2 separate regions of the Homo sapiens genome follow, and region 2 is linked to region 1. Evidence: fine-mapped expression QTL. Tissue or cell type: thyroid. Region 1 holds a variant in brackets; the other region holds the start of a gene. All regions are shown on one strand. Distances are between the middles of the regions.

What was found. PIP is the estimated chance that this variant, and not a neighbour inherited with it, causes the effect.
Region 2: it holds the start of ZNF124, and the variant in region 1 is fine-mapped to the expression of ZNF124 in thyroid (GTEx, PIP above 0.99). The same link has a PIP of 0.9 or more in tibial artery, tibial nerve and visceral fat.

Annotation. Positions count from the first base shown.
Region 1 is chr1:247,123,938-247,129,087 of GRCh38, forward strand. It overlaps a transcript of ZNF124 not described here. Among named protein-coding and RNA genes, the nearest start is that of LINC02897, 14 kb to the left of the region's middle. The variant T/TAA (reference allele first, on the strand shown) is at 2,040.
Region 2 is chr1:247,169,138-247,174,287 of GRCh38, forward strand. It overlaps ZNF124 (zinc finger protein 124), which reads right to left and starts at 2,883. Exons shown (of 4, transcript NM_001297568.2): 1 at 2,711-2,883. The coding sequence starts at 2,740.

The DNA.
Region 1 (5,150 bases):
GCCCTTTGTGATGTGCTTTTAGCTGGGACTACAGGCACCCGCCACCACGCCCGGCTAATTTTTTGTATTTTTAGTAGAGACGGGGTTTCACCGTGTTAGCCAGGATGGTCTTGATCTCCTGACCTCATGATCCGCCCGCCTCGGCCTCCCAAAGTGCTGGGATTACAGGCGTGAGCCACTGCGCCCGGCCTACGTGAGCCATTTTTTGTTAATAGCTTTATTGGGATCACACACGTAAAATTTAGCCATTTAAAATGAATGATTTTGTGGCTTTTTTTTTTTTTGAGACAGAGTCTCGCTCTGTCGCCCAGGCTGGAGTGCAAAGGTGTGATCTTGGCTCACTGCAACCTCCACCTCCCAGGTTCAAGCGATTCTCCTGCCTAAGTCTCCTGCGTAGCTGGGATTACAGGTGCAGGCCACCACATGTGGCTAATTTTGTATTTTTAGTAGAGACAGCGTTTCACCATGTTGGCCAGGATGGTCTTAAACTCCTGACCTTGTGATCTACCCGCCGCGGCTTCCCAAAGTGCTGGGATTACAGGCGTGAGCCACCACGCCCGGCTCTGATTCTGTGGCTTTTAGTACATCCACAGAGTTGCCCAACCATCATCACAGTCAATTTGAGATGATCACCCCATAAAGAAATTCTGCATCCTGTAGCAGCCAACTCCTTTCCCCCCAGCCTATGCAACTTTCTGTCTAATCTACTAATCTACTTTCTGTCTCTATTTGCCAATTCTGGACATTTCATATAAAAATAAAATCACGCAATATGTGGGGTTTGTGTGTGTGTGTATGTGGCTTCTTTTACTTAGCCAAATACTTTCAAGGTTCATTCATGTTGTAGTATGTATCAGCATTTCATTCCTTTTGTTTTAGAGACAGGGTCTCGCTCTGTCACCCAGGCTGCAGTGCAGTGGTGTGATCATGGCTTACTGCATCCTCGACCTCCCCAGGCTCAGGTGATCCTCCCACCTCAGCCTCCCAATAGCTGGGACTACAGGCACACACCGCCATGCCCGGCTATTTTTTTATTTTTTTGCATTTTTAGTACAGACGAGCTCTCATCATGTTTCCCAGGCTGGCAACTCCTGGGCTCAAGTGATCCACCTGCCTACGCCTCCCAAAGTGCTGGGATTACAGGCATGAGCCACAGCGCCCGGCCTTCATTCCTTCTTATGGGTGAATAAGATTTCATTGCAAGGATAGACCACATTTTATCCTCTGACGGACACTGGAGACTTTTTCACACATTGGCTGTTACGAATGCTGCTGCTGTGAACATTTGTGTACTAGCTTTTTTGTGGATGTTTTAATTTCTCTTGTGTATCTGTACCTGGGGGTGGAGTTTTTGGGTCAAATGGTACCTCTATGTTTGAATTTTAGAGGGGTTGCCAGACTGTTTTCCAGAGTGGCTGCGCCATTATGCAATCCCACCAGCAGGGTGTGAGGGTTCCAATTTCTCCGTATCTTCACCGACACCTGTTTTTGTCTTTTTTTTTTTTTTTTTTTTTTTTTTTTTTTTGAGGCAGAGTTTCCTCTTTCGCCCAGGCTGGAGATCTCCACTGACTGCAACCTCTGCCTTCCCGTTTCAAGGGATTCTCCTGCCTCAGCATCCTGAGTAGCTGGGATTACAGGCGTCTGCCATCACACCCGGCTAAATTTTGCATTTTTAGTAGAGACGGGGTTTCACCACATTCGCCAGGCTGGTCTCCAACTCCTGACCTCGTGATCGGCGCCGGCGCCGATTAAAGGCGCCACCGCACCCAGCCATCTGTTTATTTATTTCATTTTAGTCATCCTACTGGGAATGCAGTGGTATCTCATTGAGTTTTTGGTAACAACTTTATTGAGAGAGGATTCAAACAGCATAGAATTCACCCATTTAAACTACATGCAGCAATGTGGCTGGATCTCATATTAATTAGTCCAAGTAAAATAATCCAGATAAAAGTAAGGACATTTGAATAAAAGCTATTTTCACTGGGGAAAAAAAGTAAATATTGTACAATTGTATTCATATAAAATTCTAGAAAATG[T/TAA]AATAGTCCAGGCACAGTGGCTCACACCTATAATTCCAGCACTTTGGGAGGCTGAGGTGGGCGGATCATGAGGTCAGAAGTTCGAGACCAGCCTGACCAACATGGTGAAACCCGTCTCTACTAAAGATACAAAAATTATTATTATATTGTACCCTATTTTAAATATCATATATATTATTCACAAATGAATGTAACATTGTATACAAGGTTAAGTGTATATAAATGAATGTCCCCTAGGCAAGGCTGGGTCCCAACCCAGAGAGGAAACCCTCTTGGAGAAGAGCTGTAGCCAGAACGCTGCCTCATTCAGACACGCGCGGGAGCTGTCACCTGTCACTAAGAGTCTGAGGGGGCGGGGCCTGAGGCCCTACCCAATCAGGGGCACCGGGGCGGGGACTGCCTAATCCGGCGCTCCGCTAGAAAACCCGAGGCGGCTTCCGGGTGTGCCCGGCCTTTGTCTCTCGTGCCCGCACGTGCGTGTCTCGGTCAGTAGCCCTGCGCTTCTCCTTCACTCTCGGCGGTTCAGGAGGCTCTGCCGCAGCCGGGGCCCTCCTGTGACCTGCATGTACTGGGGGATTCGCAGGGAGGATGTCGGGACACCCCGGAAGCTGGGAAATGGTGAGTTGCGCCGCCGGGGGTCTGGAGAAGGGAAGGGGCTGTGGCGGCCCCGGGCCCCGGGCTCCCAGCGGTCGGCTCCCGAGGGCGGACCCGGGTCCCTGCTGGCGCGGCGCGGCGCGGCCCTCGGTCCTTTCTGGCGCCCGGCAGAGCTGGGCGGGCAGCGGCACCCCGGGCTCCGGTCCCGTCTCTGCACCGCGACTTCCGTCCTGCCCGAAGCAGCTTCCCTCCCCGGCCCGCGCCCGCAGCCCCGCGGCTCCTCGGGATCCTGCAGTGAGACCCGAGGCGCCTCAGGGGAGAGGCCCAGCGCGGTGTGCGGGCTCGCGCCTGCGAGGAGCTGTGGCCACTGGCGTTTCCAGTCCCTCCTTAATCCTGTTAAAAATTAAACTGAGGTTTAATTAAAGCGTTACAGAGTTTGAGCAAACAGCGATTCATGAGTAGGGGAGCACCCAGCCACGGTTTTTGGTTTGTGGGCCACCGGACGGTCTTGATGGAAAGGCTTCTGTAAAGTGTGTAAGGAAACAAACCAAATTTATTTATTTTTTATTTTAATGATCGGGTGGGGCGGGGGGGGGGTCTCCCTGTGTTGCCCAGGCTGGTCTTGAACTTCTGGTCTCAACCTCCCGAAGTGCTGGGATTACCCCGCCCAGCCCAAAGCAACCCCAATTTAATAACTGATTGGTTATAATTATGTAGTTCTGTTATTCGGATTATTTAGGTGGATGGTTCCTGGTTATGTAATCAGAGGTAAATTGCTGATTTGGGGTTAAGTTTTCTTTCCCTTCAAGTTAATTACAAGAAAGGCATGAAGTACCTTTAGGTTTTCTTGGTGAGGAACTCAGGGCACCATCATCACTTAAGGGAGGAGACCACCCCTCATATTGTCTTATGCCCAATTTCTGCCTCCAAAGAAAGAAGAAGTAAAAACTAAAAGGCAGAAATGAAATCCACAGGCAGACAGCCCGGCGCCGCGTCCTGGGCCTGGTTACAGATTGACCCTTGACCTGACCGGTTGTGTTATCTATAGATTCCAGACATTGTATGGAAAAGCACTGTGAAAATCCCTGTCCTGTTCTGTTCCGTTCTGATTGCCGGTGCATGCAGCCCCCAGTCACGTACCCCCTGCTTGCTCAATCGATCACGACCCTCTCACGCGGACCCCCTTAGAGCTGTAAGCCCTTAAAAGAGACAGGAATTGCTCACTTGGGGAGCTCGGTTTTTTGGAGACGTGAGTCTTGCCAAAGCTTCCGGCAGAATGAAGCCCTTCCTTCTTTAACTCGGTGTCTGAGGGGTTTTGTCTGCAGCTTGTCCTGCTACAACTTCAGTCTAATTTCTTCCTATTTAATTATTTCCACAAGGGTACTGGTTTCCCCTGCATTTTCCAAATGTAAGGCAAGCAGGGTCTCAAATCCATGACCGTATTCCCCAGCCTAACTCTTCTAGAACTTGCAGTAAAATTCTGAATTTCCAGTTTCTTCCTCGTACTCTCAAACTCCAACTTCCCCTTTCCAATTTACAACATTATTATTTGTTCTTTATTGTGCATTTGAACCAGATGCAGTATTGTAATTGTTTATCATGTTTTCACTGAGCAGTGAGGAGCTGTTTCTGAACATTCCTTGTGAAAACAGAGAATAATCACCTGATCTAGTCCACTATAAAAAATTCTTTGTACCTCTCCTCCTTTTGTCTTCCCTAGGCACACTCACAAACGTCTTTGGATGGAGGTTTCCCTTTGGAACCTTCACGTGGTGTTGTGTCCTCAGCCACCCTCCTGTCTTTTCTGGGTCCTGGGTTCAAAACTGTTTGAGGATGACCTAATGTGCCCACACTGGCCCTGTCTCTTGGAGTGTCATAAATAGTGAATGTCAGCTGTTGGGTCCTCTTCTCCCAGAAGACAAGGTGAGGTTTAGGGGTGGAGCCTCTCAGAGGAGCAGCTGGATGGCATGAATCCCCTGGGACCGAGAGGAGTCTCCTGGGATACTCTTCTATACTCTTCCTCTAAAAAGCTAATCCACTAGGACTTAGATTTTTTTTTTTCTCTTACCCCCGTTATCACTCCTTAGAGACAAAATGCTGGTCAGGCAGTCGGATACTGGTATTGAGGGAAGAAAGAATTTCTGCCCTCTGGATTGTCTCATGCTTGTGAAGGGAGAACAGCTATTCCAAAGTACAAGGAAACCCCGCCCCGCAGTGAGGCAGGAACCTGAAAAGCAAAATGCATTTGGGGCACAGTGGGGACACGGCGCAGTTTTCTGGGGGAGGGTGGGCATTGAGTACTTCCCCCAGCAGGATGGGGTGGGAGGATTCAGGAGATGAGAGGGAGGGTGGACATTGAGTACTTCCCCCAGCAGGATGGGGTGGGAGGATTCAGGAGATGAGAGGGAGGGTGGACATTGAGTACTTCCCCGAGCAGGATGGGGTGGGAGGATCAGGAGATGAGAGGGAGGGTGGACATTGAGTACTTCCCCCAGCAGGATGGGGTGGGAGGATTCA
Region 2 (5,150 bases), 45 kb after region 1:
ATGTTTACCTAAGGCACCAATAAATGAACAAAGCTTTGCAAGAGGACAGCCCAGGGAGGAGCAGCGCTAACTGGAACACAGATATGTTTGACTCACATGTCAAGTAAGACCATCTCTCAAGCAGGAGATTCCCTGGTCCCCGGTCTCCTCATTGGAGAGACCACGTACTCAAGGACCAACCTCCCAGCGCAATGCACTGTGGCCCACTGTGTGCCTAAGGTGCAGTTTGCTTGGCAGGTTTTTGTGTCATCTTCCTGGGAAGAAATTTTCTTGTTCTTTAAGGTTGTTTTTCTCCCTTCACAAGTGTGAAAGAATCCAGAGGGCAGGAATCATTTCTGTCTCTCCCTCAAAATACCAGCATTGGATTGGATGACACCAGTGTCTCTCCCAGTGTCCCCACTGTGTCCTCCCACCCCATCCTGCTCAGGGAAGTACTCAATGCCCACCCTCCCCCAGAAACCTGTGCCGTGTCCCCACTGTGCCCCAAATGCATTTTGCTTTTCAGGTTCCTGCCTCACTGCGGGGCGGGGTTTCCTTGTACTTTGGAATAGCTGTTCTCCCTTCACAAGCATGAGACAATCCAGAGGGCAGAAATTCTTTCTTCCCTCAATACCAGTATCCGACTGCCTGACCAGCATTTTGTCTCTAAGGAGTGATAACGGGGGTAAGAGAAGAAAAAAAAATCTAAGTCCTAGTGGATTAGCTTTTTAGAGGAAGAGTATAGAAGAGTATCCCAGGAGACTCCTCTCGGTCCCAGGGGATTCATGCCATCCAGCTGCTCCTCTGAGAGGCTCCACCCCTAAACCTCACCTTGTCTTCTGGGAGAAGAGGACCCAACAGCTGACATTCACTATTTATGACACTCCAAGAGACAGGGCCAGTGTGGGCACATTAGGTCATCCTCAAACAGTTTTGAACCCAGGACCCAGAAAAGACAGGAGGGTGGCTGAGGACACAACACCACGTGAAGGTTCCAAAGGGAAACCTCCATCCAAAGACGTTTGTGAGTGTGCCTAGGGAAGACAAAAGGAGGAGAGGTACAAAGAATTTTTTATAGTGGACTAGATCAGGTGATTATTCTCTGTTTTCACAAGGAATGTTCAGAAACAGCTCCTCACTGCTCAGTGAAAACATGATAAACAATTACATTACTGCATCTGGTTCAAATGCACAATAAAGAACAAATAATTAATAATGTTGTAAATTGGAGAGGTGAAGTTGGAGTTTGAGAGTATGAGGAAGAAACTGGAAATTTAGAATTTTACTGCAAGTTCTAGAAGTTAGGCTGGGGAATACGGTCATGGATTTGAGACCCTGCTTGCCTTACATTTGGGAAATGCAGGGGAAACCAGTACCCTTGTGGAAATAATTAAATAGGAAGAAATTAGACTGAAGTTGTAGCAGGGCAAGCTGCAGACAAAACCCCTCAGACACCGAGTTAAAGAAGGAAGGGCTTCATTCTGCCGGAAGCTTTGGCAAGACTCACGTCTCCAAAAACCCAGCTCCCCAAGTGAGCAATTCCTGTCCCTTTTAAGGGCTTACAACTCTAAGGGGGTCCACGTGAGAGGGTCGTGATCGATTGACCAAGCAGGGGGTACATAACTGGGGGCTGCATGCACCGGCAATCAGAACGGAACAGAACAGGACAGGGATTTTCACAGTGCTTTTCCATACAATGTCTGGAATCTATAGATAACACAACCGGTCAGGTCAAGGGTCAATCTGTAACCAGGCCCAGGACGCGGCGCCGGGCTGTCTGCCTGTGGATTTCATTTCTGCCTTTTAGTTTTTACTTCTTCTTTCTTTGGAGGCAGAAATTGGGCATAAGACAATATGAGGGGTGGTCTCCTCCCTTAAGTGATGATGGTGCCCTGAGTTCCTCACCAAGAAAACCTAAAGGTACTTCATGCCTTTCTTGTAATTAACTTGAAGGGAAAGAAAACTTAACCCCAAATCAGCAATTTACCTCTGATTACATAACCAGGAACCATCCACCTAAATAATCCGAATAACAGAACTACATAATTATAACCAATCAGTTATTAAATTGGGGTTGCTTTGGGCTGGGCGGGGTAATCCCAGCACTTCGGGAGGTTGAGACCAGAAGTTCAAGACCAGCCTGGGCAACACAGGGAGACCCCCCCCCCGCCCCACCCGATCATTAAAATAAAAAATAAATAAATTTGGTTTGTTTCCTTACACACTTTACAGAAGCCTTTCCATCAAGACCGTCCGGTGGCCCACAAACCAAAAACCGTGGCTGGGTGCTCCCCTACTCATGAATCGCTGTTTGCTCAAACTCTGTAACGCTTTAATTAAACCTCAGTTTAATTTTTAACAGGATTAAGGAGGGACTGGAAACGCCAGTGGCCACAGCTCCTCGCAGGCGCGAGCCCGCACACCGCGCTGGGCCTCTCCCCTGAGGCGCCTCGGGTCTCACTGCAGGATCCCGAGGAGCCGCGGGGCTGCGGGCGCGGGCCGGGGAGGGAAGCTGCTTCGGGCAGGACGGAAGTCGCGGTGCAGAGACGGGACCGGAGCCCGGGGTGCCGCTGCCCGCCCAGCTCTGCCGGGCGCCAGAAAGGACCGAGGGCCGCGCCGCGCCGCGCCAGCAGGGACCCGGGTCCGCCCTCGGGAGCCGACCGCTGGGAGCCCGGGGCCCGGGGCCGCCACAGCCCCTTCCCTTCTCCAGACCCCCGGCGGCGCAACTCACCATTTCCCAGCTTCCGGGGTGTCCCGACATCCTCCCTGCGAATCCCCCAGTACATGCAGGTCACAGGAGGGCCCCGGCTGCGGCAGAGCCTCCTGAACCGCCGAGAGTGAAGGAGAAGCGCAGGGCTACTGACCGAGACACGCACGTGCGGGCACGAGAGACAAAGGCCGGGCACACCCGGAAGCCGCCTCGGGTTTTCTAGCGGAGCGCCGGATTAGGCAGTCCCCGCCCCGGTGCCCCTGATTGGGTAGGGCCTCAGGCCCCGCCCCCTCAGACTCTTAGTGACAGGTGACAGCTCCCGCGCGTGTCTGAATGAGGCAGCGTTCTGGCTACAGCTCTTCTCCAAGAGGGTTTCCTCTCTGGGTTGGGACCCAGCCTTGCCTAGGGGACATTCATTTATATACACTTAACCTTGTATACAATGTTACATTCATTTGTGAATAATATATATGATATTTAAAATAGGAAACAATATAATAATAATTCTTTTAAAATTTCAGACTTATTAACCTTCATGGCCTCTGGTCTTCTGAGGAAGCAGTCTGAGGAGCCCGAGTTTTGAAAAGGGAAGCAATCCTCCAAGGCTGCGATTTCCACAGAAATCACATGTGAGCCACAGGTGTCATTTTAAAATTTCTAGTAGCAACAGAAACGAGGAATAAACAGGTAAAATTGATTGCAATACTTTATTTAACTCAATATATACAAAATATTATAATTTAAATATATGATAAATATAATATTAATGAAGTATTTTTTGTTGTTCTGTTTTTTGGTACTAAATCTTTCAAAGTCACTCTGCGTTTTAAACTTCCAGCATGTACCGATTCAGACCAGCCACATTCTAGGTGCTAAGTAGACCCCTGTGGGCAATGACTGTCACACTGAAGTGCAGTTTTGAGGGCTCTGGTTCCCCTGACCTCAGGGAGTGAAGGGCCCGAACCCCTCTTTTCTGCTAGAGGTGAGGGAATGCCCTCCTTCTGCTAACATCTCTCCTCAGGCCCAAGGGTGGCAGAGACAGTGCCCAGAGAGAGAAGTGGGCTGCAATAAAGAAGTATCTAGAGGGAGTCTACTATTTCCCACCTGCTCTTGCCAGGGGCCCAGCCTCTTCTATAGATAAGACAGTGAAAAAAAGATGAGGGGCCCCAGGAGAAGAAAACCCATGTCTTCAGATTTGTCCACAGCCTTAACCTCAGGACTTTAGATGTAGAGGGAATACATTAAAGACAAACTTCTCATTTTGCAATTTGGCTTTGGCCCTAATGGTCAGGCTGTGGTTTTCTGTTTCCTCCTGTGGTGTGGAATTTAAGTGTGTGAGTTTAAGCACAAATCACATGCATGTCTACGTGCACTTCTGTATGGCTCAACACCGTCTAACCAGAAATCCAACTTTACATAAAGGGAAAAGGAAATCAGTACATACAGGGTGCCTTGTGTTTGCCTGGTAAATTGCAATCAACATGTCATTGAATCCTGGCATCCTGTCTGCACTAGGTGTACGTATTACCTATTGCTTCACAGTAAAATTCCCCAAAACGTATTAGATTGAGCTGGTCCACCTTCTAGGCTGGGCTCAAGTGAGCCATTCTTCTGGTCTCTGCTGGGCCCTTTCAGGCACGTGTGGTCAGCTGCTGGTTGACTAGGCAATGCTGCTTCTGAGGGTGAGCTGCCTGTCAACTGTGGCACTTTGGTTTTCCTCCCTATAGTATCTCATCCTCTAGCAGGCTAACATGGACTTGTTATTATGGAGATGACAGGGTTGTGAAATAAAAAGCAGAAGCATTCAAGAGCTTTTGTGCCTCGGCCCCAAACTGGCACATGGTCATATTCACAGCTTTCTACTGCCAGAGCAAATAAGGCCAGTGAGATTCAAGGTTTGGGAAACAGATTCTGCCTCTCAATGAAAGCAGCTATAAAAGCACATCACAAAGGGCATAAATACAGGAAGGGATGAAGAGTTGCTGCCATTTTTGCAATCAGTATCATGCCTTTTCTTGCAGATGAGGTTTATATAACTTTCCAAGACAAGGAAGTTGTGCAAAGCCTCACAGCTACTAAGAGGCTGGGCTGGGACCAGGATTAACTTTTCGTGACTCCAAAGCCCATGCACCTCTGCAAGCCACACGAATCAAGCAGCTTCTCTAAACCTTTGAAGTCCTGGAAAGTAACTCTTCTGCAATAGAAGCAAGAATCCTGTGAGATTGGGATCCATCTAGTACTCTTCACCATTTGGAACAACTGCCTCCAGAGAATGCTTCTGACACATCTTGGAAGAACGTGGAATAACTTGAGGAAATGGTCGATTTGCTAATTTAGGAAACCAATGTTCGATATTACATATTTTTTATTTCTTTTCATAGGATAAATTTAAAAGCACAGATGACGCACTCCACATGAACGCAAATCCTATTCATCCCTTTTTGTTGTTTGTAGGCTATTT